Homo sapiens: one gene and its partners. The protein of the gene in region 1 interacts with the protein of each later gene in a biochemical or structural test. Each region holds a gene or a part of one and is shown in the gene's direction. Other genes may lie near its edges.

Region 1 (3,500 bases):
CAGAATTCTGGATCATAAACTCTACCTATAAATTTTTACATATGATTCTACCCTGTCACATTTGACAGGGCCACTTCCAGGATCTTTTGGACTTGACATTTTCTGAATGATTTATGGGGAGGAAAACAATAATGTAAAAAACTATCTTTGTAGGTTCCTGAATATCTACATCATGTTAACAAACGTCTAGAAGAAGAAGCAGACAGACTTATTACTTACTTAGATCAGACCACCCAGTAAGTACCACATGCTGAATTTAATAGTCTTAAACTGTCGTTAAATCACTTGCAGCACTTTAGCCATCCTAAACATGTTAGTAACTGTTTTCAGGTGTGATTTGAAGTGTTAACAGTTGTTTTCATAATACAAACTTCAAGTTATTCTTTTCCCTAGTTAATTAGTTTTCATCCAAGGATTCGATTATTAGGGGTGTGTGTGTGTGTGTGTGTGTGTGTGTGTGTGTGTGTTTAGAAGGTAATTTAGAAATAATACTAGAGGCTGATGTGACCTTTAAACTCTTCAGGCCAATTAAAATTCAGTGGATTCCCCTATTTCTGTGCTTTCCTAAGTATTAATATTGCCAGTCGAGGGGCCTCTGTATGTAGTACTTCTTTACCTTCCTAATAAAAGTAGCAAAACTTGGAAAAAGCCGACTACAGCAAGGTCTTGGAGATATTTATTTCGTTATGTAAACCAAATTCTAAAATATGCAGTGTTTTTTTAAAATTTTTGCCTGTCAGTTCCTTTATGTCTTTTTCTTTTAGGCATAAAGTATAGTAACTCTGAGCACCAATAAATTTATACATAGGATAGGAATCTTGAAATCAACATAAAATGAGCTATTTGATTTTTTTCCCCCCTCAGGAGAGGCTTTACATTTTCTGGAAGTCAAACGTCAATAATACTAACCTTTTTTTTTTTCCTTGTAGGAAGTCATTAATTGCTACTGTAGAAAAACAACTTCTAGGTGAACACTTAACAGCAATTCTTCAGAAAGGTAATTGGCAATTTGTAAATAAGAGATTGCTTTTTAAATGGTAGTGGCAAACTAGTAGGGAATTTTTAAAGATGTTGCCCTTTTAAAAGTTTGATAGCATGTGGCTGCATTTCTGAGGATGGACACAATCCTTATTAATCACAGTAAACTTCCTGGAGGTGCCAGTTTTCTTATCTGAAAGATACAGGAACTAGAAGAGAGGGATCCACAAATACCAATAAAAAAACAGTGGTTGATATGTGCCTGTAGTATCAGCTACTTGAGAGGCTGAGGCAGGAGGATTGCTTCAGCCCAGGAGTTTGAGGTCAGCCTGGGCAACATAGTGAGACTCTCGTCTCTTTAAATAAAATAAAAGAAAAAAAGTGGGAAATTCTTGACTTAATATGTAAGCTTTCAGTAAGGAAAGGTATTCCTTTTTACACTAAAGCGGTGAGGGTTTTTTGTTGTTCATGGCATGTCAAACCAAGCACTTCTAATCCCAAGTGAATTTAGAGTATACCCTACATTTTACTTTGAGAATGCCGCAAATAGGTAAAAGCCTTACCTTTCTCCCCAATAATATTTTCTTTTGTATAAAAATTTATATATTTAGAAATTTAATGCAGTTATACTGTTATTTCATCCTGGAAATCAAATATTTATTAGAGCCTCATTTAAATTTGACCTATTTATGCATGGCTTTTGATATATCACAGGCTATATCCAGTATTCTGAAATATAACTATGTACATAATATGGCTACTACATATATGAGGTATTTATAATGTATATTTATGTAAGCCAGTTTTTATAAGTTTGTTTTTGCCTCTAATCTATCATGCTAAATGGCACAAACCATTATGGAGTTAACCATTTTTCTTTTTCTTTTTAATTTTTTTAACTTTTTGAATTAAAATAGAGAGGGGGAGGGGGTCTTACTGTTGTGCCCAGGCTGGTCTTGACCTCCTGGCTTCAATTGATCCTCCTGCCTCAGCCTCCCAAAGTGCTGGGATTACAGGTGTGAGCCACCGTGCCTGGCCTGTTTTTATTTTTATAGCGACTAAAGTCTCTATATTTAGTTTTTACCCAGAAAGATGGTTGGGTTTAATTCAAAGGAAATCTTACATTACAACTCACATACAGACTAGTCATAGTTCAAACCAGTATCACAATAATGATTATAACTCAAATTTTATTAAAATGTCTGATAATCTTGTTCACTTTTTTGTTCACTATATTTTAATGCCAAAATGTTTTAAAATACAGGTTTAAATAACCTCCTTGATGAAAACCGAATTCAAGATTTGTCTCTTCTGTATCAGCTCTTCAGTAGAGTTCGAGGTGGAGTTCAGGTTCTTTTGCAGCAGTGGATCGAATATATCAAGGTATTAACAATTTACCTGTGATTTTTCTCTCTTATGGCTTATCTACACATCAAGAGTGCATATTGGCAAGCATTTCTTGTTTGATCCAATTTTTTTTTTTTTGAGACAGAGTTTTGCTCTCGTCACCCAGGCTGGAGTGCGGTGGCACGATCTTAGCTCGCTGCAACCTCTGCCTCCCAGGTTCAAGTGATTCTCCTGCCTCAGCCTCCCAAGTAGCTAGGATTACAGGCATGCACCACCATGCCTGGCTAATTTTGTATTTTTAGTAGAGACGGGGTTTCACCATGTTGGTCAGGCTGGCCTTGAACTCCTGAACTCAAATGATCCACCCGCCTTGGCCTCCCAAAGTGCTGGGATTACAGGCGTGAGCCACCACACCCGGACTTGATCCAGTTCTTTTAAGGGAATTTTAAATTTGTTTAAAAAGTAATGGGAATTTTGAGAACAGTCAACCTGAGAATGGTAGCTGTGTGGCATATCAGCTATAAAACCTGATTGATGGCTGACATAATTTCTGTCTCTACCACTTAAAGCAGTAAATGTAGAAAAAGACTTTGAACCCCAAATTTCTTTCCTTTCTTCAATCTTACACTAAAGCCAGATTGCCATTTTAAGGAAGTTGAAAGCTGACTTCTTTAAAAATAAGGAAAAGATCCCAGAGGCTTCTAATAATACCCTGTTATGATATCATATGCCCAGTGATCATTGCTTACTATTTTTGTGATTATAGATGAGTGGTTAACAGTGTGGATATTTAGCACTTTATTTTTTTGTCCTCATTTCACTATCAGCTTTATTTTGCCAGGTGCAGTGGTACATGCCTGTAACTCCAGCTACTTGGGAGGCTGAGGCAGGAGGATCCTTTCAGCCTAGGAGTTTCAGACTAGCCTGGGCAACATAGCAAGATTCCATCTTAAAAATAGCTTTATCTTACTTTTTAAAGATCTTTAAATATATATGCCACTTAAAATATGATTTGGGGATTGTTTTCATTGTAGACAATTCGATTACAGTAAAAAGTGGTAATTTTTTGTTTTAGGCATTTGGCAGCACTATTGTAATTAATCCTGAAAAAGATAAAACCATGGTTCAAGAATTGCTGGATTTTAAAGATAAGGTTGACCATATAATTGATATCT
Region 2 (3,500 bases), about 40 Mb from region 1:
GTTATTACTGTGGTGTGAGGGCTAAGGCTTTCCCACAGACTTATGCTGTTTTTATGAGCCACCAAAAGATGTTTTGGGGTTGTGGGGAGGTAGTTGGCACATTGAAAAGCAATGTGTTTATTTCATGGTGGATCGTAGTAGGTGATACCAATTTTAGTCCCATTGTATTCCTTAATATTGCTATACAGTATTTAATAACACATTCTTCTTTGTAGGATTATCAAGATGTTATAGATACTCCTGTGGACTTCAGCACTGTGAAAGAAACTTTGGAAGCAGGAAACTATGGTAGTCCTCTGGAATTTTATAAGGATGTTCGCCAAATATTCAACAACTCCAAAGCTTATACCTCTAATAAAAAGTCAAGGGTATGATTATTAGTTGGGTTAATTATCAGGCAGTTTTCTTTAACCAGTTACTGAAAATTGGTCCTCAGTATCTTTTTTGAAACATGGATTGCTTGTTAGGCATGCATAAAGATACATTTAGCAGTCATTCTGAAATTAACCACCTTTTCCTTTCTCTTATTTGTCTCTTTACTCTTTAGTAATAAATATTTATAGGTACCAGAGAAAAAACAAGGAGAGGAGAGGTAGTAATTTAAGTACACTTTAATATAATAAGTGACTTAATAAATAGAAAGGTGATTGACAGTGTTGATTTATGTGAAATATTTTTATTAGCTCTGAACATGTATGTTCCATTTATTCTAACAAATAATGAACCATCTTGGGAAGTTGTAACTGCTTATTTATACTCACATTTAATATCTTCCCTATTTTTGTCAGAACTTAAAGTATATTGAGAATAGAAAAATAGTAATCAAGTTTTTCTTTTGAAATCACTGGTATCTGATTAGCTTTTAATCAGTTGCACAGTAAATATATATTTGCCTACTTCCACTTTATGGAAAATGCATTTCCACTAATTTCTGCAAACATAATTTGTTTACACTTGCTTCCCCCTCCCCCTTGATCCTGATTGCTAGAGTAACATTTTCTATAGAAAGTTTGGGAAACACAGAAGTATAAAGAAGAAAACAAAAATCACCTGTGAAACCTATCACCTATTTTTACTTACAGTTACTGTTTACTTCCAGGATTTTCTACATTAACACATATATCTACATATGCTTATAAATTCTTTAAAATAGTGGATTTCGTATTTTGAAGCATTTTTTGTTACTTAAGTGTTATGAATGTTTTCCTGTATCTCATGACTCTTTGAAAACAAGGTTTTTAATGGTATTCTGTTGTGTGGTTGTTTTATGTTATACTAACCAGTGTTCTTTGGCTAGGGATTTAGGTTGTTTCCAGTTATCCATTTTACATGAATAATGCTATAGGTAATATCTTTAACATTATTGAATATATTTTTTATGTATATAATTCTGTGATATTTCCTTAGGACAAATTCCCAGAAGTAAAATTACTAGCCAAAGGATGTGTGTATCTTTAAGGTTTTTTTGTACAGACTGCATATTGTCCTTTAGAATGCTGTTTCAGTTTACATTCTCTCTTGCATTGTATCAGAGTCTTTTTTTCCCTACCTTTTAGAACATTGAATACTATATTTGAAAAACATTTATTTTAGGTGAAAATGGTATCTTACTTTAGTTATTTGAGAAGAATTTTTCAAGTGAACAGATATTTTGTCTGTAATGATGATGCTTAATATTGGTCTAGGCATGTTTATACCTTTTTTTAAAATATAAAACTAGTTAAGACTATATAATTTCTGCCTTCTCAGATCTATAGCATGATGCTGCGATTATCTGCCTTATTTGAAAGTCATATCAAAAATATCATCTCTGAATATAAGTCAGCAATCCAGAGTCAGAAGAGGAGAAGGCCACGGTACAGAAAACGTCTAAGAAGCAGCAGCAGTTCATTATCTAGTAGTGGAGCACCTAGGTATCATTACATTGATGCAACATTTTTTGTTCTCAAAGCATTTTGTATGTATTACCTAATTTGTGAAAGTTTATGAATAATTTGGGGAGATCCCAAGAGGTCTTTTTTTGTTTGTTTCCTAAACTCTTATGCCTATGTAGAGTTAGTAATCAAAAGTACTATTTATGTGGGTTTTACTATCCCAGAAACTTTTTTTAAATTTTAATGATTGAAGTTTCACTGTCAAATTATCTATTTCATGAATTTTAGGGCATTTCTTCTTTGGCCAGCTAATACCTGACCTTGATACCTCTTTGTATCATACTGTCTATCATAATATGTTGCTAACAGAAAAAAAAAAATGCTCGTTGTTACATATTTTTACTTCTAGTCCAAAAGGGAAGCAGAAACAAATGAAGTTGCAGCCTAAAAATGACCAGAATACCTCAGTATCTCATGCCAGGACTAGCTCTCCTTTCTCATCTCCTGGTAAATATGTCTTTTGTTTTTGGTGTTCTGCATCTCGGTTTAATTCTGATATTAAGGATATAGAAGAGGCAGCATGGTTTATAGTGCAAAGAACAATGGATTTAGATTTTTAAAAGTTGTGCTTTATTCCCAATTCTACTTGCTAGTTTTGTGTCCCTGAGTATGACATTAGGCCATATGATTCCTTTTCTTTATTAGACTACATGAAAAGTCTCTTAGTTTTAAAATTTTATGATTAAATGATGCCTATAATATCTCAGAGCACTTATCTACAATATATTTACCAACATAATATTTGAAAATTTATGATGAGCAATTGGACAAGTTTTTCTGACATTCAACCCTTTGTTCTCAAAATATTCATATCATTTTCTTAGAGAAACTTATAATTTTGGTGTTAGAATAAAATAACAGAGATATGGTTTCAAAAAGTAGCCTGTTTAACTTTCCTGAAAACATGATAATTATGTTAGTATTAAAATCTTTTAAAATGTAAGTTTCAGATGCTGCTGAAGGGCTTTCACTATATCTACTTGATGATGAGCCAGATGGGCCATTTTCTTCATCGAGCTTCGGTGGATATAGCCGAAGTGGAAATAGCCATGACCCAGGGAAAGCCAAATCATTTCGGAATAGAGTTTTGCCAGTTAAACAAGGTAGGAAATAAATACAGGACAAGACATTTATTATTTATTTCTTTATGATAGCAGATAAATCATTTAAAAGCTGACATGTTGACATACTAAAAACTAGTATATCCTTATAGTTAATGAGAATTCTGTCACATATGAGTCAGATGGCATTTCATATTCATAACTGGGAACAGGCCATTAGCAGATTTCCAATAGCTATTTTCAAATGTATTTTAGTCTTAAAACGTAAAATGGGGCCAGGCGTGGTGGCTCACACCTGTAATCCCAGCACTTTAGGAAGCTGAGGTGGGAGGATCACTTGAGGCCAGGAGATCGAGATCAACCTGGACAACAAAGCAAGACCTAATCTCTACAAAAAAAAAAAAAAAAAAAAAGTAGCCACATGTGGTGGCATACAACTCATACCTACTCGGGAAGCTGAGGTGGGAGGAGCGCTTTAGCCAGGAGTAGGAGACTACAGTGAGCT
Region 3 (3,500 bases), on another chromosome or scaffold:
CCTGTCAGGTTCAAGCAGTTCTCATGCCTCAGCCTCTCAAGCAGCTGGGATTACAGGCGCCTGCCACCACACCCGGCTAATTTTGTATTTTTAGTAGAGATGGAGTTTCACTGTGTTGCACTCCATACTGGGTGACAGAGCGAGATTCTGTATCAAAAAACAAAAACAAACAAAAATGAATTAGTTCTTTCCTTTAATAAACCGAATACCTTCTGTTTGTTGTACACTTTAGGATATTATTTATCTTCCTCCCCCAATCCTACAACTGTTTCATTTGACTCCCTGATGAACGTGTTATTGTGATATACTGGCATCTGAAAGAATTATGAGGGAATTAAACTATGTAACCTTTATTAATGAATGATTCTTTCACAGGCAGTCTGGGCTCTTGGCAACATTGCTGGAGATAGTACCATGTGCAGGGACTATGTCTTAGACTGCAATATCCTTCCCCCTCTTTTGCAGTAAGTTTCTTCTTCCTTCTTCCTTTTTTTTTCTTTTTGAGAATAAAAATGTAAGAGATTCCTCAGAAAGCATTACATGTTTGGAAATCATTTTGGATTTTCTAGTGTTATTTTTAATTCCAGATATTTTCTTGTTTAGATCATTTCCTCAAGCACCCTATCTTTTTCCATGCCAAAATTCTGAATTCTGAATTACTTGCATCAGAATTAATGAAGTTTTAATGTTCTGGAGAAAAGCTATCTGAAGACATCTCTTTATCAAAAGTATTATTATTTAGTATTTATGTCATCAGATAATCACTGTCTGTTACATAGTTTACCATTGTACCATCGTGCTTTTAGGTTATTTTCAAAGCAAAACCGCCTGACCATGACCCGGAATGCAGTATGGGCTTTGTCTAATCTCTGTAGAGGGAAAAGTCCACCTCCAGAATTTGCAAAGGTAAGGACTATGCTTTTGGGACATTGGCAGAAAAAATACAATTAAAAGAGTATTGCAACCAATGGTAAGGTGAACAGGAAGATAATTTTTGTTAAAATTTAAAATGTTAGAATTTTATCTGTTTTTGGAGAAACAGGGTTGTTGTTGTTTTTGTTGGTTCTCTTTATTATTTAAAAAGCAAATTTAGAGCATAGCTTGAAGGTGCACATTTACGATGGGACTGCAAATAAAGCATAGCATGAAGGAAGAATTTGTAAAGCTTATTGAAATTAGGCTTCATACAATTAGTATACTGTTTAGGAGACTATCCTTTCAGTTCTCTTAAAACAGTGGTTCTCAAAGTGTGGTCTGTGAGTTCTCTGGGAGTCCATGAGATTCTTTTTTTTTTTCCAATAGGTTTTTGGGGAACAGGTGGTGTTTAGGTACATGAGTTACTTGTTTAGTGGTGATTTCTGAGATTTTGGTGCACCCAACACCCAAGCAGTGTACGCTGTACCCAGTGTGTAGTCCTTTATCTCTCACCCACCTCCGACCCTTTCTCCCTGAGTCCCCAAAGTACATTGTATCATTCTTACGCTTTTGCGTCCTCATAGCTTAGCTCCCACTTATGAATGAGAACATCTGATGTTTGGTTTTCCAGTCCTGAGTGACTTTATCTACTTGTTGATTGATGGGCATTTGGGCTGGTTCCATGTGTTTGCAATTGTGAATTGTGCTGCTATAAACCTGCGTATACAAGTATCTTTTTCTTATAATGACCTCTTTTCCTCTGGGTAGATACCCAGGAATGGGACTGGTGCATCAAATGGTAGATATACTTTTAGTTCTTTAAGGAATCTCCACACTGTTTTCCATAGTGGTTATACTGGTTTACATTCCCAGCAACAGTGTAAAAGTGTTCCCTTTTCACCACATTCATGCCAACATCTATTTTTTGTTTTTTGGTTTTTTGAGACGGAGTTTTGCTCTTGTTGCCCAGGCTGAAGTGCAGTGGCGCGGTCTCGGCACACTGCAACCTCTGCCTCCTAGGTTCAAGTGATTCTCCTGCCTCAGCCTCCCGAGTAGCTGGGATTACAGGCGCATACCACCACACCCGGCTAATTTTTGTATTTTTAGTAGAGACGGGGTTTCACCATGTTGGCCAGGTTGGTCTTGAACTCCAGACCTCAGGTGATCCACCCACCTCAGCCTCCCAAAGTGCTGGGATTACAGGCGTGAGCCACCACGCCCAGCTGCATTTTTTAATATGTTTGTTGGCTATTTGTATATCTTCTTTTGAGAATTGTCTGTTCATGTCCTTAGCCCACTTTTTGATGGGATTTTTTTTTCTTGCTGATTTGAATTTCTTGCAGATTCTGGATATTAAAATAAATGGGTATTTTTGTAGTTGTTTTTAATTTGGAATCATTTTTCACTGAACAAAACCTTAGCATTTTTGGTCTTTAACAAAGTATCTAAAATACAGAATTTCCTAGTTTTCACATTTGTGAAAGTTCCTTTACCTGTTTAGTCCACAAAGAATGTGTTTTGATAGGGAGTCTTACTCCAAGAATTGATGTATATAAAACTTTGCTCTCTGAAATTATTTTCCTTGGGCTTTGACTACAGATTAGTGCAAGATCACTGACAACATTGCCAAAGATGGAAATGCCACTTAGGTACTTGCTGCTTCATCTTTAGAAGTGTAAATCACCCTAGAAGTCACCAAGTACATGCCTGGTTGCCTTCTTGAGTATCTCACCTCACTTCTGGCTTTTAGTCTATTGAATTTCATAATCATCATTTTCCTTTTACAGGTTTCTCCATGTCTGAATGTGCTTTCCTGGTTGCTGTTTGTCAGTGACACTGATGTACTGGCTGATGCCTGCTGGGCCCTCTCATATCTATCAGATGGACCCAATGATAAAATTCAAGCGGTCATCGATGCGGGAGTATGTAGGAGACTTGTGGAACTGCTGATGTAAGATATCTTTTAGAAAGTGTGTCCACTTTCTCTCCCTTGGTACTAGTTTTCTAGCTGCTAATACTTAAATATTAATGGATTGTACATGATAATTGATTTATTGTGCTTTGGGCTACTGTTTTTGTTACTTGTTTATTTTGATGTCAGATCTGTTTGTCTTGTTTTATTGAGGCTTATAGAGAACCTCTTAGTCCTCTGCTGTTAGCAGGCCTTTAGCAGAAACATTGGGAAAACTCTGATATGTGTAGTTCCAGGCTCATACTGGATGGCCTGAGATCAACCACCGGACATCAGAAGGCATACTGCCACTAAAATAGTCATTCCTTATCTGTCTGTCTCATTTAGAGCTTATTTTAGACAAGTATCAGAAATTCAATCTTATTTTGCTTTATCATCTCCGTGATGCTTTTGATAATGGAGTGGAAGATTTACTCGTGACATAAATAATTTGAGACTGTATTAATCAAATTTTTAGATACTACAGAAGAAAAAAATGAAAGTGATAACATAATGGAGAAATGGTACAGTTACAAGGTATGGGAGATTTAAAGTACAAAGTAGATGCAAAGAGACATTGTCGCAAACATGACATTTGGAATATATTAGATAGTTATAATGTATTAATACAAAA
Region 4 (3,500 bases), on another chromosome or scaffold:
TGCTTCGCTACTGCGCCACATTTTAATTTTAGTAAATCCTTCTGACTCCACATTCAAAGTATCTTCAGAATCTAACAGATTTCCCTGGCTTCCTCTGCCTCCACCCACGACTAAGCTATCTTCCCCCACCTGACTTATTGCCCCCAGACTCCCGAAAACCAAACAGGTCTCCTTGCTTTCACCCTTGTTGCCCTGGGGGTCTGTTCACAACACTCGCTGGAGTGGCTGAAACACAAGACAGGCCTCTAGTGGCTTCCCACCTCGGTGAAAGCCAGAGTCCTTACCGTGGCCTCGGCTCCAGCGTTCTTGCCTCCTTGCTGCTTCTTGAACATGCCACACATCTGTCTTGGTACCTGCTAGTTATTGCCTTTGCCTGGACATTTTCTCAGATAGCTGCAAGTCTTGCTCCCTGTCTTCTCTTTGGTTTTTCTTTTTTAATTTGAGGTGGAGGCTTACTGTCGCCCAAGCTGGAGTGCGGTGGCGTGATCTTGGGTCACTGCAACCTCCACCTGCCGGGTTCAGGCAAATCTCCTGCCTCAGCCTCCCGAGTAGTGGGGACTACAGGTACGTGCCAATTCACCTGGCTAATTTTTGTATTTTTTAGTAGGTAACGGGGTTTCGCCGTGTTGGCCAGGCTGATCTTGAACTCCCAACCTCAAGTGATCTGCTCGCTCGCCTTGGCCTCCCAAAGTCCTGGGATACAGGCGTGAGCCACCACACTAGGCCTTTCCCTTTGGTTTATACTTAGATGTAGTCACCTTAGTAGAGGGGTGTCCCCGGAATAGAATTTTCCATCCCCGGCCTTCTGTCTTTCTCATTGCTGACAATAAGTAGGAAGCAAGCTAACAAGCAGCAGGCTACGGCTGCCTACAAGTGTACATAGGTATCTGCCTGTCCCCCTAACTGGGCATCAGCTCCAGGCCAGCAGGGCTTTCCCCTCTCTTTCAGTCACTGCCGTGTCCTCGCCTAAGAGAGTGTCTGGCACACAGTAGGTGCTCAGTGAGTTACTCATTGATTAAAAAGCCTGGAAAACCAGGCTGTGTCGTGAAGATAATAGGCAGCCACTGAGGTCTTACTGCATGAGAACAAGGAAAGCTCAGCTCAGTGTAGATTGCCGGACCTAAATTTTGTGGAATCGCCTTTCATACCTAAGAGGCGAGCACCGTTGCCAGCTTTGCACTTGGAGCCCCCTCTGTCATTTATTTTGTTGACTTAAAAGCTGTTTTGTGAACCCAGCATAATGGCACTTCTTAAACTTGTAGAAAAAGGGTGTTTCTTACCTGTTTATTTCAACACATCTCGTTGCCTCACCTGGAGAGGCAACTCTCCTCTGTAGAGTGAAAGACTATAATGGTGGCCATGTAGAAACTAATATTCCAGAAGGAGAGAGCTCCAAGAAGGGGATTCCAGTGAACCATATGTACACTGTGTTTGAGAGACATTAGTTCCCCACGGAGAAGGGATGGATAGTCTGTGCTTCGGGGGTCTAAGGAAGGCTTCCTGCAGGTGCTGGTACCTCCTTAGGTCTGGGGTGGTTCCTTCTAAGTTTCCTTACCCTGCCTGCATCACCTCTGCCTCTTATGACCTCTGTGCAAAGACTGGGAAGGGTCACCCCCAATGGCTGTGAACGAACCTGTTTGTGATTCTAAACAGGGCACGGGACCATCCTACAATAAAAATTACCCAGCCTAAAATGCCAGTAGTGCCAGTAGTCCCTGTTTAGAAAAAGAAAAAAAAAAAGCAACTTTTGCCTCACAACAGAGGCCCTCTTGTGTGCTGCCAGGCAGCCAGCAGATTTGCTATGCAGGCAAGTTTGGGGCCTGGTTTTTAAAGTATCCAGTTCCTAGATTCCAGAACTAAAATACACATTTGGAAAAATGATGTCTATAAAATTGAGTTTCCGGGAGTGCAAGGTTTATAGCAATTTGACACTGCTGGGAACCCAGGCGCAGTATCAGTGGACTTTTCTCCTTGAACAGGGGGCAGACCAAGTGGGGGGTTGGGGAGGGTATTGGGCTCACTCTTGGTTTCCCTTGGTGTGAGCTGCCACCATTCACATGCAGAGGACTCACCTGTGTTTCCTGCGGGTTGGGGGTAATGGTGGCATGACAGAGGGCTTGAGGACTGACCTAGCTGCTTCTCCGGAATTGGACGCCTGCTGACTACCTGCGTGTATCCAGATGGCCATTGGCCTGTGGGGGTGCAGGATGGAGGCCCTGCCCACATGGAGCTCACTGTCCTGGGTGGGAGTGAAATAAACTCTAGGTGGCAGAAGGAAGTGGTGCGTTGGATTATCACCTGGGTGCAAACGAGCTGGCAGCAGCGCCTGCCAGGTGCAGAGCCAGGAACCTCTAGGCCTTCAGTCTGACCACCTGATGGCAGGGGAAGCAGAGGGTGGTGGGGGGCCTTCATCTCAGGAGAATCTGAGTGGCTGCAGGTGCCAGTCAGGACGCTGGGCTTCTGCAGATGGGACCACATCTGGGAGGACCGAAGGGCCGGGTGCTTATGGGCTGTTACTGTGGCACTGAGCGTGAGGGGAGTGGACAGGACCCAGGCTGAGAAGTGCTGGTGTGCAGTGGTGGCAGGTGGCTCACACAGCCCTACCATAGCGCAGCCCTGCTCTGAAGGCCACTGGAGCCATTCAGAGGTCTCACAGACAAGTAATCAGATCCAGCCTACGGTAAGGAGAAGTTCTGTATCTGAGATCTGAGGCAGGGAAGCCAATTAGGAAGCTGCTCAAAGATGAAGGCGGCGTCAGCGCAGGTTCCGTTGCGTGGTGCAGCCATCTCTGGCTCTCACGTTTCCCACACATGTTCACTAAGCCCCTGTCTTGGCAAGCCATACCCTAAGCCACAGAGGACCAGGATTAAAATCAGTGATTTTCAGGGAGGGGTAATTTCCCCCACCTCATTCCCCTGAGGGATATCTGGCAACGTTTGCAGACATTTTTGTGCCACTGGTATCTGAAGTCAGGGTTGTGGCCAAACATCCGACAAGGTACATGGCCGTCCTTCCACAAAGAACTGTCCAGCCCCAAATGCCAGGGGTACCAAGGTTGAAAACTCTGGTAAAGAACCTTCGAAGGCACCAGGTTAAGTGCTTCAAAAGAACAATGCCCTGGGTGCTCTGGGAATGTGAGGGAGGAGCCAGCTGTGCCACAGAGCGGGGACAGCTGCTGGAGAAGTGCCACATTTGAGTTGGGTCTTGAAGGATGAATAAGAGTTCTCCAGGAGGAGCGTTGAGACACACGGCAGAGGTGGGGAGAAACCAGGCAGGAAACAGCATGTGTACCTGGGTCCTCTCAGCCCCACTGTGGCCTCCTGTGTGTTGCTTTTGGTACATTTCTTGCCCTGTTGGAGGTAACGGGAGGGATACTGAAGCCATCTTTGAGGTAAGAGAAGAGGTTTAGCCTCATGCGTAAGACTACTGGAGAGATGGCCTTGCCCAAGAGTAGTTGGAGATGCTTCTTTGGAGAGTGACCTCCACCTTCTGCAAGGCCC
Region 5 (3,500 bases), on another chromosome or scaffold:
CTCCTGCCTCAGCCTCCTGTGTAGCTGGAGTCCCCGCCACCATGCCCAGCTAATTTTTGTATTTTTAGTAGAGATGGAGTTTCACTATGTTGGCCAGGCTGGTCTCGAACTCCTGACCTTGTGACCTCCCTGCCTCAGCCTCCCAAAGTGCTGGTATTACAGGCGTGAGCCACTGCACCCGGCCAGTTTGTTCCTCTTTTACTTTGTTTAGTGTATTCTTATTCTTCAAGGCTCATACCAATTGTTGCTCCATTAATTATTTTAACATATTTATGAGCGCTTAACTGTCCCTTCTCCTAGGTGCTGGGAATACAGCAAGGAATTAGACCAGTTCCCTGCTCTCTGGTATGGTGGGACAGATACTAAAAAGGTAAACAACTTAATTTCAGGAAGAGATAAAGACCATTAATAATATAGGGTGTATCAGTAAATTCATGTGGGCAGACGTAAGGTGCCTGGGGAAGATTTCTGAGGAGGTACTATTTTAGCTGAGACTTGAATGATGAAACAGAGGCAGATCTTTCAGCACTTAAATAATGTTGTTCCACTTCTTTCTAACTTCCATGGTTTCTGATGAGAAATCTACAGACATTTGAATTGTTGCACCTCTATAGGTGATACGTGGTTTCTATCTGGTTACTTTAGAGGTTTTTACTGTATATCTTTTAGTTTTTTCCATTTTAGCTATGATGTGCCTGGGCATGGATTTCTTTGGATTTATCATATTTGAGGGTCTCTGAACTTCCTGAATTTGGGGGGTCTCTGAACCTTTTGAATTGGAGTTTATATCTTTAGCCAAATTTGGGAAATTTCCTTCCTCCTTCCCTTGCTTCCTTCCTCTCTCCCTTCCTTTCTTCTTTCCTTCCTTTCTTTCATCTTTCTTTTTTTCCCCTTCCTTCCTTTCTTTCTTTCTTTTTTTCTTTCTTTTGACAGAGTCTCACTGCATTGCCCAGGCTGGAGTGCAGTGGCATGATCTCAGCTCACTTCAGCCTCTGCTTCCCAGGCTCAAGTGATCCTCCCACCTCAGCCTCCTGAGTAGCTGTGACTACAAGTGCACACCACTGTGCCCGGCTACTTTTTGTATTTTTAGTAGAGATGGGGTTTTGCCATGATGCCCAGGCTGGTCTTGAACTCCTGGGCTCAAGCAATTTGCCCATCTCAGCCTCCCAAAGTTCTGGGATTATGGATGTGTGCCACCACCACCAACTATTACAGCCATTATTTCTTAATTTTTTTTTTTTTTCTTAGCATTCTACTCCTCAAGATCAGGGTGTTACAACTTTTGATATTTTCCCTAGGGCCCTGAGGCTTTACTGACTTTTTTTCAGTCTTTTTATTTTTTCCCTCTTTTGTTCACATTGGGTAATGTATACTAATCTATCTTCAGGGTGACTGACTCATTTCTCTGATGACTTCATTCTGCCCTTGAGCCCATCAGTGAGTTTTTTATTCTTTTTCAGAATTGTTTTTAAATTTTTAAAAGATATTTTACTAGAGTCTATGGAAGCTAGAAGAGTTTTGTATGCTGGTTATTGCTTTTTCAGCTCTAAACTTCTTATCTGGATCTTTAAGAAATATCTTCTGTTTCTTAGCTGAGACTTTGTTTTTCCATCATTTCAAGAGTGTTTGTGATTACTTATTGGAACATTTTTATAATAGGTACTTCAAAATCTGTCTCAGAGAATTCCAACTTTTGTAGCATCTCAACATTGGTGTCTGTCAATTGTCTTTTCTAGATTGAGTTTTTTCCTAGTACTTCATATGCTGAATGATTTTGGATTGTTTCCTAGACATTTTGAATATTATAAGATGATAGGGCTTGTTTAAATCCTAAGAGGATGTTGGTGATTTTTGGCTTGGTAGGCAATCTACCTAATTAGCTTCAGGGAATTTGCAATTTGTAACTCTCTTTAGGCTATGGTTCTAATGGCAGATGAATTTTCAGAAAGTCTTTGCAGTGCTATTTGGATCTGTCCCATGTATGTGACATTCAGTGGCCAGTCTGCAATCTGGGTGTTGATTATTTCAGTTCTCAAAGCCTTTAGTATGATTTGGACCAGATCCACACGTGTGCAGCTTGGGAGTTCATGAACAACTTCATGATGTTACTTTTCTGAGCTCCTCCCCATCTGATATCTCCCCAGTACCTTCTGGTTCCACTGGGGTCTCCCTTTTGATCCTCTGATGACAAAATTGGGGCTTTAATTATCCTTCCTTGCAACACACTTGCTCTTCAAGCAGCAGGAGAACCAGGGGAGACAATGTTAACCTCACTGCCCATTCAGTGGTACTTTATTGTTAGCCAATTGGTTTTTCTCATATGCCTGTCTTATGCATTCTGTCTAGGTTTTATAGCTGCATTTTTAGTGGGAGAGAGAAGGTGGTGTTTGATTATTCCATCTTATCTGGCAACAGCTTTATAACTTAAGTTTTTCACTAAATGCCGTTGACTTTTATGGCCTGTGATTTAACTTTGATTTGAATCAAGGTATAATAAAACAATTAGAAGACTTTGCCATATAATAGATGCCCCATAAATATTAAAACATATTTTTATTGTGATTTTAAAATAGCCTAACATTTACCGTCTTAACTGATTGTAAGTGTACAGTTCAGTAGTATTAAGTATATTCACATTGTGAAATTGATCTCGAGAAGTTTTTCATCTTGAAAATCTGAAAAGTCTAACCCATTCAACAGCACCTTCTCTTTCCCCTCCTGCTAGTCCCTGGTGACCACCATTCTTCTTTGTTTCTGTGAATTTGATTCCTTTTTCTTTTTTTAATGATAAGTATTTTACATTAATTTTTTTTTTTTTTTTTTTTTTTTAGAGATTGGGTCTTGCTCTGTTGCCCAAGCTAGACTCAAACTCCTGGGCTCAAGTGGTCCACCTCAGCCTCCCAAGTAGCTGGGATTACAGGTGTGTGCTATGGCACCTGGCTGTTAAATTTGATTACGTTTGATACTTCATTTAAGTGGAATCATACAGTATTTGTCTGTTTGTGATTGGCTTATTTGACTTCACATAATGTCCTCAAGTTTCAGTGATGTAGCATATGTCAGAATTTTCTTCCTTTTGAAGGCCGAGTAATATTCCTTTGTGTGTATATACCATATTTTGTTTATCCACTCATCCATCAGTGAACTTTTGGGTTGCTTCCATCTCTTGACTACTATGAATAGCGCTGATATGAACATGGGTGTGCAAATATCTCTTAGAAATCCTGCTTTCAGTTATTTTGGATTTATACCCAGAAGTAGAATTGTTGGATCTTATGGTAGTTCTAATTTTCTTCAAGGAACCTTCATACTGTTTTCCTTAGTAGCTGTACTATTTTTCAGTTCCACCAACAATGCACAAGGGTTCAACTTCCTCTATGTCCTCAATGAAACTTGTCATTTTCTTTTTTTAAAAAAAGCAGTCGTTCTAATGGGTGTGAGGTGATATCCCATTGTAGTTTTGATTTACATTTCTCTGATGATTAGTGATGTTGAGCATC
Region 6 (3,201 bases), on another chromosome or scaffold:
TACCTGCCCATCAACAGCGCGGCCATCAAGGCCGAGTGTGAGTCACCCCAACGCCCCGCTTACTCTGTTCCTGCGGGTGGTGGGGAGAGAGCAGCAACCTTGGGGCCCAGCCTGTAGCCCCACTGGGAGTTCTGATCTCAGGGAGCCCCACGTCCTCCTCGGTGCTGACATGGCCGAGCCCAGTGAGGGCTCCCAGGTCAAGGCGCAGGCAGGGTCCCGTGCTCCCCTGGGGGTGCCCCACCCCTCACACCGTGTGGTACCCCGCAGGCACGGCGCGGCTGCCCGAAGCCTCCCAGAGCCCGCTGGTGCTGAAGCAGGCGGTACGCAAGCCGCTGGAAGCCGTGCTTCGGTATCTTGGTGAGCAGCCAGGCGTGCTGGGGGGCTCCCAATGCTGCCTGCAGGCAGCTTCTCACCCAAGCTCATGCACTGGTGCTCCCAGCCTTCTCTAGCTGGGAGCTCCTGGACAGCCCCCCAGGGCCTGGAACTGTCCTTTTGGGGTACTCTGCACCGTGCCAGGCTCAGGCAGACCCACTGGGACCCAGGCTGCTCCCTGCTCCTGGGGTCGTGATGGGGCCCAGTGCGGAGTAGCGGCCGCCCTGTCTTCTGCGGGGCCAGCCTCCTCAAGGCACACCCGGGGGCTTCCCTGCCAGTCTCGCTACCCTGTTCCCTGTGTTCTGATCGTCCCTGGGGCCTGAGGGTCTGGGGTTTAGGTGGTGCACACCCCTGCCTGTAATACCATTAAGGCAGCGTCGTACCTGCTGCCTGCAGGGAGTATACTTCCTGAGCCACGCCCACTCCACAGGGGCAGCACTCAGGCCTCTGCACGCCCTCGGCAGGGGGAGGAGCAGCCTCAGGCGGCAGGGGGTTCCTTTGCCTTTGAGCATCTGAGGACACCCGAGAACCTCAGCCGGCTACCCTGGCCCAGCTGGAAGCAGCTTGGTGGCTGGGCCAGACATTTGTGGTGGCGGTGGGGGGCCTCCTCCATTTGCTGGGCTCGAGTGGGCTTGTGCATCTGCCCTCCCGACACAGGGTGACTGTCCTGAGAAGGACATTCCAGAGTCATGAGCCAAGTGTGCTCTGAGATTCAAGTGGCTTTGGCATTGCTCCCTGTTTGGGGTTGTGGCCCCTGTCCTGTGGGAAGAGGTGGCTGGTGTCAGGGCTGGTCCTCAGCAGCTGTGTCCCTGGCCAGGCTGGCTGGATGGTTGGTTCGCTGTCTGACGAGCAGCCAGCCCTCCACCAGCAGCTCCGGGGGCCTGGACGTGGGGGCTGTTTAATAGGCGTGCTGTGCTCACGGGCCTGTGTATGGATCCTGTTGTCCCGGGGCTGAGGGGCCTGGCCCCCGCCAGGTGGTCTCCCTGCTCTCTGGAAGCCCTGGGGTGCGGGACTGGCCCGGGCACACGCCTTGCCGAGGGCTTCTGGGCTTCTGGTTCTGTGGTGACCTCCCCACTTCCAGCCCAGTCAGGATGGGGCCTCGGGTGGGGGCCGCATGGGGCTTAGTTCCTGGGGGTATCCCGGAACCATGAGGGCTGGAGCCTGGGCCTGCCTGCCCCTCCCCTGCTGGGCAGAGGCAACTCGTTCTGCCTGTGTCATTCCCGGCAGAGACCCACCCCCGCCCCCCCAAGCCTGACCCCGTGAAAAGCGTGTCCAGCGTGCTCAGCAGCCTGACGCCCGCCAAGGTGGCCCCCGTCATCAACAACGGCTCCCCCACCATCCTGGGCAAGCGCAGCTACGAGCAGCACAACGGGGTGGACGGTGAGTGGCCCCCCCGCCCGGTGAGTGTGGCCCTCCCCGCCCGGTGAGTCCGGCCCGTCCCCGCCCGGGCACCCGCCGTGCGTGCTGACGCTGTCTTCTCTCCCTCTCTCCCACCCCGGCGCTGCCAGGCAACATGAAGAAGCGCCTCTTGATGCCCAGTAGGGGTAAGGCCTGGAGCCGCGGGCGGGCGCTGCGCCGGCCCCGCCCGTGATGCCTGTGCTGTGCTGCTCTGTGTCCCCGCGGCGGGCGGCCCAGGGCCCATGCTTGGGGCAGTCCACGTGAGCCAGGCCACAGCCCAGTTCCCCACATTCCTCCCGACATCACTGGTCCCTTGGTGAAGACCCCCCGAGCCCAGGCATCTGGCCCTCGGCCCCCTGGCCCCGCCTCCTGTCAGTGGACTGTCCTGGCACGTGTGGCCCTGGCGCCCCTGCCTGCGCTGTCTGCCATCGCGCTGTGACTGCCCGCATGCTGCCAGCCTCAGCTCGTGGGGCCGCCCGTGCTGTGCCTGCAATCCTTCCGTGCGCCTGCCAGGCGGGACAGTGGGGAGGGTGGTCGGGGGTGTCTGTGTGGGCCGTGGGCAACTGAGCTTGTACACATGGGTGCCTTCTGTCGGAGGACTGGCTCAGGTGCTCTGTGCCGGTTGCTTGGAGCAGGGGCTGCGGGACCCCAGGCCCCTTGGGGAAGAGCAGATAGGACCAAGCCTAGCATGAGGAGGCCAGGTGTGTGGGGCCCGGGTGTGCAAGTGCTGGGCCTGCCAGTGTGGATGTGCCTGGAGCCCCTTCGCCAGGCGGCTTTCACTGACGGTGCTGGCCAGGGCAGCAGGGCCGGTTTGGCGACCTGGAGGTGGATATGGGTAGTGGCTGCCCAGCCCAGCCAACCCTGTCCCCTTGGGGCATTCTCTCGAGGCTGCTGGGTGTCCTGGCAGGCACGTCCTGTGGGGTCAGCACGCCGGCTGCAGCGCAGGGTGGGCCTGAGATCGGGTGCCGGGCCCCCCATCTCCACCTGTCTGGACACGCACCCCTGGCCTGTCCTTGCAGCTTCCTCCCGACATCCCTTGGCGGTGTCTGTGTCTCGGCCCCAGCCCCAGCCCTCCTTTCCTGGGGCACCCTCCCAGCCATCTGGTATTGGGGCTGCCCCCATTGCCTAGTCCTGGGCCCAGGGCCAGCCCACTCTGGGCTGGCTTTACTTGTCTGTTCCTAATGGCAGGGCGTCCCAGGAACAGCCCCATAAGAGCTGGTAGAAACAGGAGGGAGTCCTTGTCAGCAGGCATCTTCGAGCTTTTTGTTTTGTTTTGTAAAAAGCGGTTAACCAGCAAGTTACATAAAAGCTTATTTGTTCCCACTGAATTTTCCACACCTCACACGTGAGTCCCAGCCATGCAGTGCTTGTGAGGGAGCATCACCCCTTGCCGCCTGGCTGGGCGGGGCCCTGGGCTCAGAGGGGTCAGCC
Region 7 (3,500 bases), on another chromosome or scaffold:
AGGAGACCATGTTAGGATTATGAACAAAAACATTTTTTTTAAAGATGGTGAACAAATTCAGTGTTCTGTCCTAGCCTCAAGAAGGAAACTGGCTTTAGGAAAAGCAACCAAAAAGTGATGATATATTTTGTTAATTGTACCTAGTCATATATTGCAACTAAAAATTTTGGGGAAAATTATACAGGAAGGAGACCAAGTAGTATAGTTAATGATGAAAACTGGCTTATAAAAAAAGAGTTTCCTGAATTTAAGGAAAAATATTTTTGTTATTTCTCCTGTGAAACTAAACTGTTTCTCACTTTTTCTTCCCTCAATTCTACATATATTTATTTTGCAATTTTTGTTCTTTGTTTTCATGCATTAAAAGAGTAGTTCTCATTTGGAATGGTACTGATCTCAAAGGGAATGTTTAGGAATAAAGCGTGGGGCAATTTTGGTTGTCACTATGGGGGAAGAGAACTATCTACTAGCATGTAGTCAGCAAGGACCAGAGTTTCTAAACCTCCTGCAGTACACAGGTCAGTGTGCACAGTGGACTAGTTGTCCCACCTAAAATGCCAGTTATGCCTCTGTTGTGCAACATTCCAACAAAATGTCTCCTTATAAAGAAATTGATATTTAAAGAGTTGAAGTTTGAAAAACAATTAAAATATGCCTGCTTTGCTAGCTATGGTGAAATGATAATATAGTAAACACACCATGATCATTTCTGTGTATATTTGTTTTTGTTGTTGTTTTTGAGACAGGGTCTCGCATTGTCACCCAGGCTGTAGTGCAGTGGTACAGTCACAGCTCACTGCAGACTGGATCTCCCAGGCTTAAGTGATCCTCCTGCCTCAGACTCCTGAGCAGCTAGGACTATAGGCATGAGCCACCATGCCCACCTAATTTTTTATTTTTTGTAGAGACGGGGTCTCGCTATGCTGCCCAGGCTGGTCTTGAACTCCTGGGCTCAAGTGATCCTCCTGCCTTAGCTCCCAAAATACAAGGATTACAGGCATGAGCCACTGTGTGTGGCCATCATTTTCGAAATATTCTTTTTAGAGGTCATATGTAAAAAGAGAGGGGCTATTCTTGGAGATTTCTAGCTACCCATACTCTTTGAGTGGAAGGCAAAAACTATTGGTTATCTTTAGACAAAGACAAGCATACCTACTAAATGAATTTGTTTACTAAAATTTAGAAATAAAATTTGAATAGAAATATAAATGTAACTTCCAAATTAGTAGAGGGTAAAAAACTAATAAAACATGATCAATCCCATAGAAGCAGAGAAGGGAAGGAAAAAAGATAATTATTTAAAAGAACAGGTAAATTAGGAAGCACAAAACTAGTCATATACTGCAACTAAAAAGTTGGAGAAAATTATACAGGAAGGAGACCAAGTTGTATAGTTCATGATGAAAACTAGCTTACAAAATAAATTTCCTTAATTTCAGGAAAAATATTTTTTGTTATTTCACAAAGCATAAAACTAGTAGGCAGATAACCTAAGCTTTAATCCAAATATTAATAACTGTGATAAACGTATATGGGCTAAACTGTCCAGTTAAAAATAGACAGTGTTAGATTAGATTAAAAATAAAACAGAACTGTATTTTCTTTGTAAGGGACACAGTTAAAACATACAAACCTAGAAAAGTTGAAAGTAAAAGGATGAGAAAAAACAAACAATTATACGTCAAAGACAAAACAGTTGTGGCTACATTAATAGCAAACAAAATAAAGTTTAAGACAAAAAGCATTACTGATAAAAAGGTACTATAACAAAAGATTAATTTCACTAAAATATAAAAGCTTGTATGCGCCTAAAAACATAGCATAAAACTATAAAAAGTAAAAGTGGACAGAATTACAAGAAAGAAGTGAGAAATCTCCATCTCAGTGGAAAATATTAACAGCATTCTCTCATTTACTTATCTAGATAAGATAGACAAAAATGGGCCGGGCATGGTGGCTCACGCCTGTAATCCCAGCACTTTGGGAGGCTGAGGTGGGCAGATCACTTGCGGTCAGGAGACCAGCCTGGCCAACATGGTGAAACTCCATCTCTACTAAAAATACAAAAATTAGGCCACGTGTGGTGGCTCACACCTGTAATCCCAGCACTTCGGAAGGCCGAGGTGGGTGGATCACCTGAGGTCAGGAGTTTGAGACCAGCCTGGCCAGCACGCAGAAACCCCATCTCTACTAAAAATACAAAAATTAGCCAGGCGTGGTGGCTGGCACCTGTAATCCCAGCTACTTGGGAGGCTGAGGCAGGAGAATCACTTGAACCCAGGAGGTAGAGGTTGCCGTGAGCCGAGGTTGTGCCACTGTACTCCAGCCTGGGCCACAGAGTCAGACTCTGTCTCAAAACAATAACAACAGCAACAACAAAAATAAATAAAACACAAAAATTAGCAGGGCCTAGTGGCACACGCCTGTAATCCCAGCTACTGAGGCAGGAGAATCGCTTGAACCTGGGAGGCAGAGGTGGCAGTGGGCCAGCCTGGGTGACAGAGTGAGATTCTGTCTCAAAAAAGAAAAATAACAACAACAACAAACAAAAATGGATAAGGCTGTGGAAGATTTAAATATTATTAATAAGCTTGATGTATTACACATATTTAGATTTCTGCTACCAACAACTAGTGAAAACATCCTCTGAAGCAAACTTAGAACCAGTACAAAAATTGAGCATGTACTGAACTACAAAGTAGGTTTCAGCTGGTACCAAAGAACTATTATCACACAAACCATTTTCCCTGTTCTTAGTATCATTTAGTTATTAATTAAAAATTCTCATGTTTAGAGACTTATAAACTCACTTTTAAATAATTTATGGATCAAAGAAGAAATCATACTGAAGACAGGTTGAAAATTGATGAACTAAGCATCTTACTCAAAAAACTGGAAAAAAGTAAAAGGATAAACCCGATGAAAGTAGATGTATGGAAATGATAAGTGTAAAAGCATAAAATTGATGATGTCAAAAATGAAAATATAATAGAGGATTTTTAAAAGCCTGCTCTTTGAAAAAAGCTAATTGAATAGGCAATTCTCTGGCAAGATTCATCAAGAGAAAAAAGACATAAATAACTAATATCAGCAATAAAAAGGAGACAACAATATAGAAGAAGATGATAGATGAGCTTTATCCCTATATACTTGAAAACTTTGATGAAATAGCCAGTTTACTAAAAAAATACACCTTAGCAAAACTGGCCAAGGAAGAAATAGAAAACCTGAAATAGACCTATTACTAGGACTAATATTTAGCCAATATGTACTGGTTCAGCTGAAGTACTGTTAAAAGATTGAACTTCTTCCATACCAATTCGTAAATAGGCACTGCCCTGAGTTACCCTCTGACACCCTCTGACTACCCAGGCCCCTCTTCTAGAGATACCTCCCACAAAACCTTCCCATGATTCAGCAGCAAAAGTCCCCCTTACACAATATGGCGATTCCAGGACCCTGTTCCAGCACAGCCATCTGCATCTATTCTGACTGGCAAG

Evidence for each region.
Region 2: the proteins of CUL4B (region 1) and BRWD3 form a complex in vitro, tested with the Homo sapiens proteins (one study listed by BioGRID).
Region 3: the proteins of CUL4B (region 1) and KPNA1 form a complex in vitro, tested with the Homo sapiens proteins (one study listed by BioGRID).
Region 4: the proteins of CUL4B (region 1) and WDR1 form a complex in vitro, tested with the Homo sapiens proteins (one study listed by BioGRID).
Region 5: the proteins of CUL4B (region 1) and DET1 form a complex in vitro, tested with the Homo sapiens proteins (one study listed by BioGRID).
Region 6: the proteins of CUL4B (region 1) and MTA1 form a complex in vitro, tested with the Homo sapiens proteins (one study listed by BioGRID).
Region 7: the proteins of CUL4B (region 1) and DCAF10 form a complex in vitro, tested with the Homo sapiens proteins (one study listed by BioGRID).

The regions. Positions count from the first base shown.
Region 1 is NC_000023.11:120,540,463-120,543,962, reverse strand, and holds part of CUL4B (cullin-4B), read left to right. Parts: intron 1-153; coding exon 154-236; intron 237-929; coding exon 930-997; intron 998-2,242; coding exon 2,243-2,361; intron 2,362-3,400; coding exon 3,401-3,500.
Region 2 is NC_000023.11:80,680,878-80,684,377, reverse strand, and holds part of BRWD3 (bromodomain and WD repeat-containing protein 3), read left to right. Parts: intron 1-215; coding exon 216-368; intron 369-1,749; coding exon 1,750-1,913; intron 1,914-2,283; coding exon 2,284-2,381; intron 2,382-2,878; coding exon 2,879-3,037; intron 3,038-3,500. UniProt on the Homo sapiens protein: Plays a role in the regulation of cell morphology and cytoskeletal organization. Required in the control of cell shape.
Region 3 is NC_000003.12:122,448,940-122,452,439, reverse strand, and holds part of KPNA1 (importin subunit alpha-5), read left to right. Parts: intron 1-375; coding exon 376-464; intron 465-806; coding exon 807-906; intron 907-2,702; coding exon 2,703-2,866; intron 2,867-3,500. UniProt on the Homo sapiens protein: Functions in nuclear protein import as an adapter protein for nuclear receptor KPNB1. Binds specifically and directly to substrates containing either a simple or bipartite NLS motif.
Region 4 is NC_000004.12:10,110,300-10,113,799, reverse strand, and holds part of WDR1 (WD repeat-containing protein 1), read left to right. Parts: intron 1-3,500.
Region 5 is NC_000015.10:88,533,182-88,536,681, reverse strand, and holds part of DET1 (DET1 homolog), read left to right. Parts: intron 1-300; exon of another isoform or gene 301-347; coding exon of another isoform or gene 348-370; intron 371-3,500. UniProt on the Homo sapiens protein: Component of the E3 ubiquitin ligase DCX DET1-COP1 complex, which is required for ubiquitination and subsequent degradation of target proteins. The complex is involved in JUN ubiquitination and degradation.
Region 6 is NC_000014.9:105,464,827-105,468,027, forward strand, and holds part of MTA1 (metastasis-associated protein MTA1), read left to right. Parts: coding exon 1-37; intron 38-267; coding exon 268-357; intron 358-1,599; coding exon 1,600-1,752; intron 1,753-1,880; coding exon 1,881-1,916; intron 1,917-3,201. UniProt on the Homo sapiens protein: Transcriptional coregulator which can act as both a transcriptional corepressor and coactivator. Acts as a component of the histone deacetylase NuRD complex which participates in the remodeling of chromatin.
Region 7 is NC_000009.12:37,842,297-37,845,796, forward strand, and holds part of DCAF10 (DDB1- and CUL4-associated factor 10), read left to right. Parts: intron 1-3,500. UniProt on the Homo sapiens protein: May function as a substrate receptor for CUL4-DDB1 E3 ubiquitin-protein ligase complex.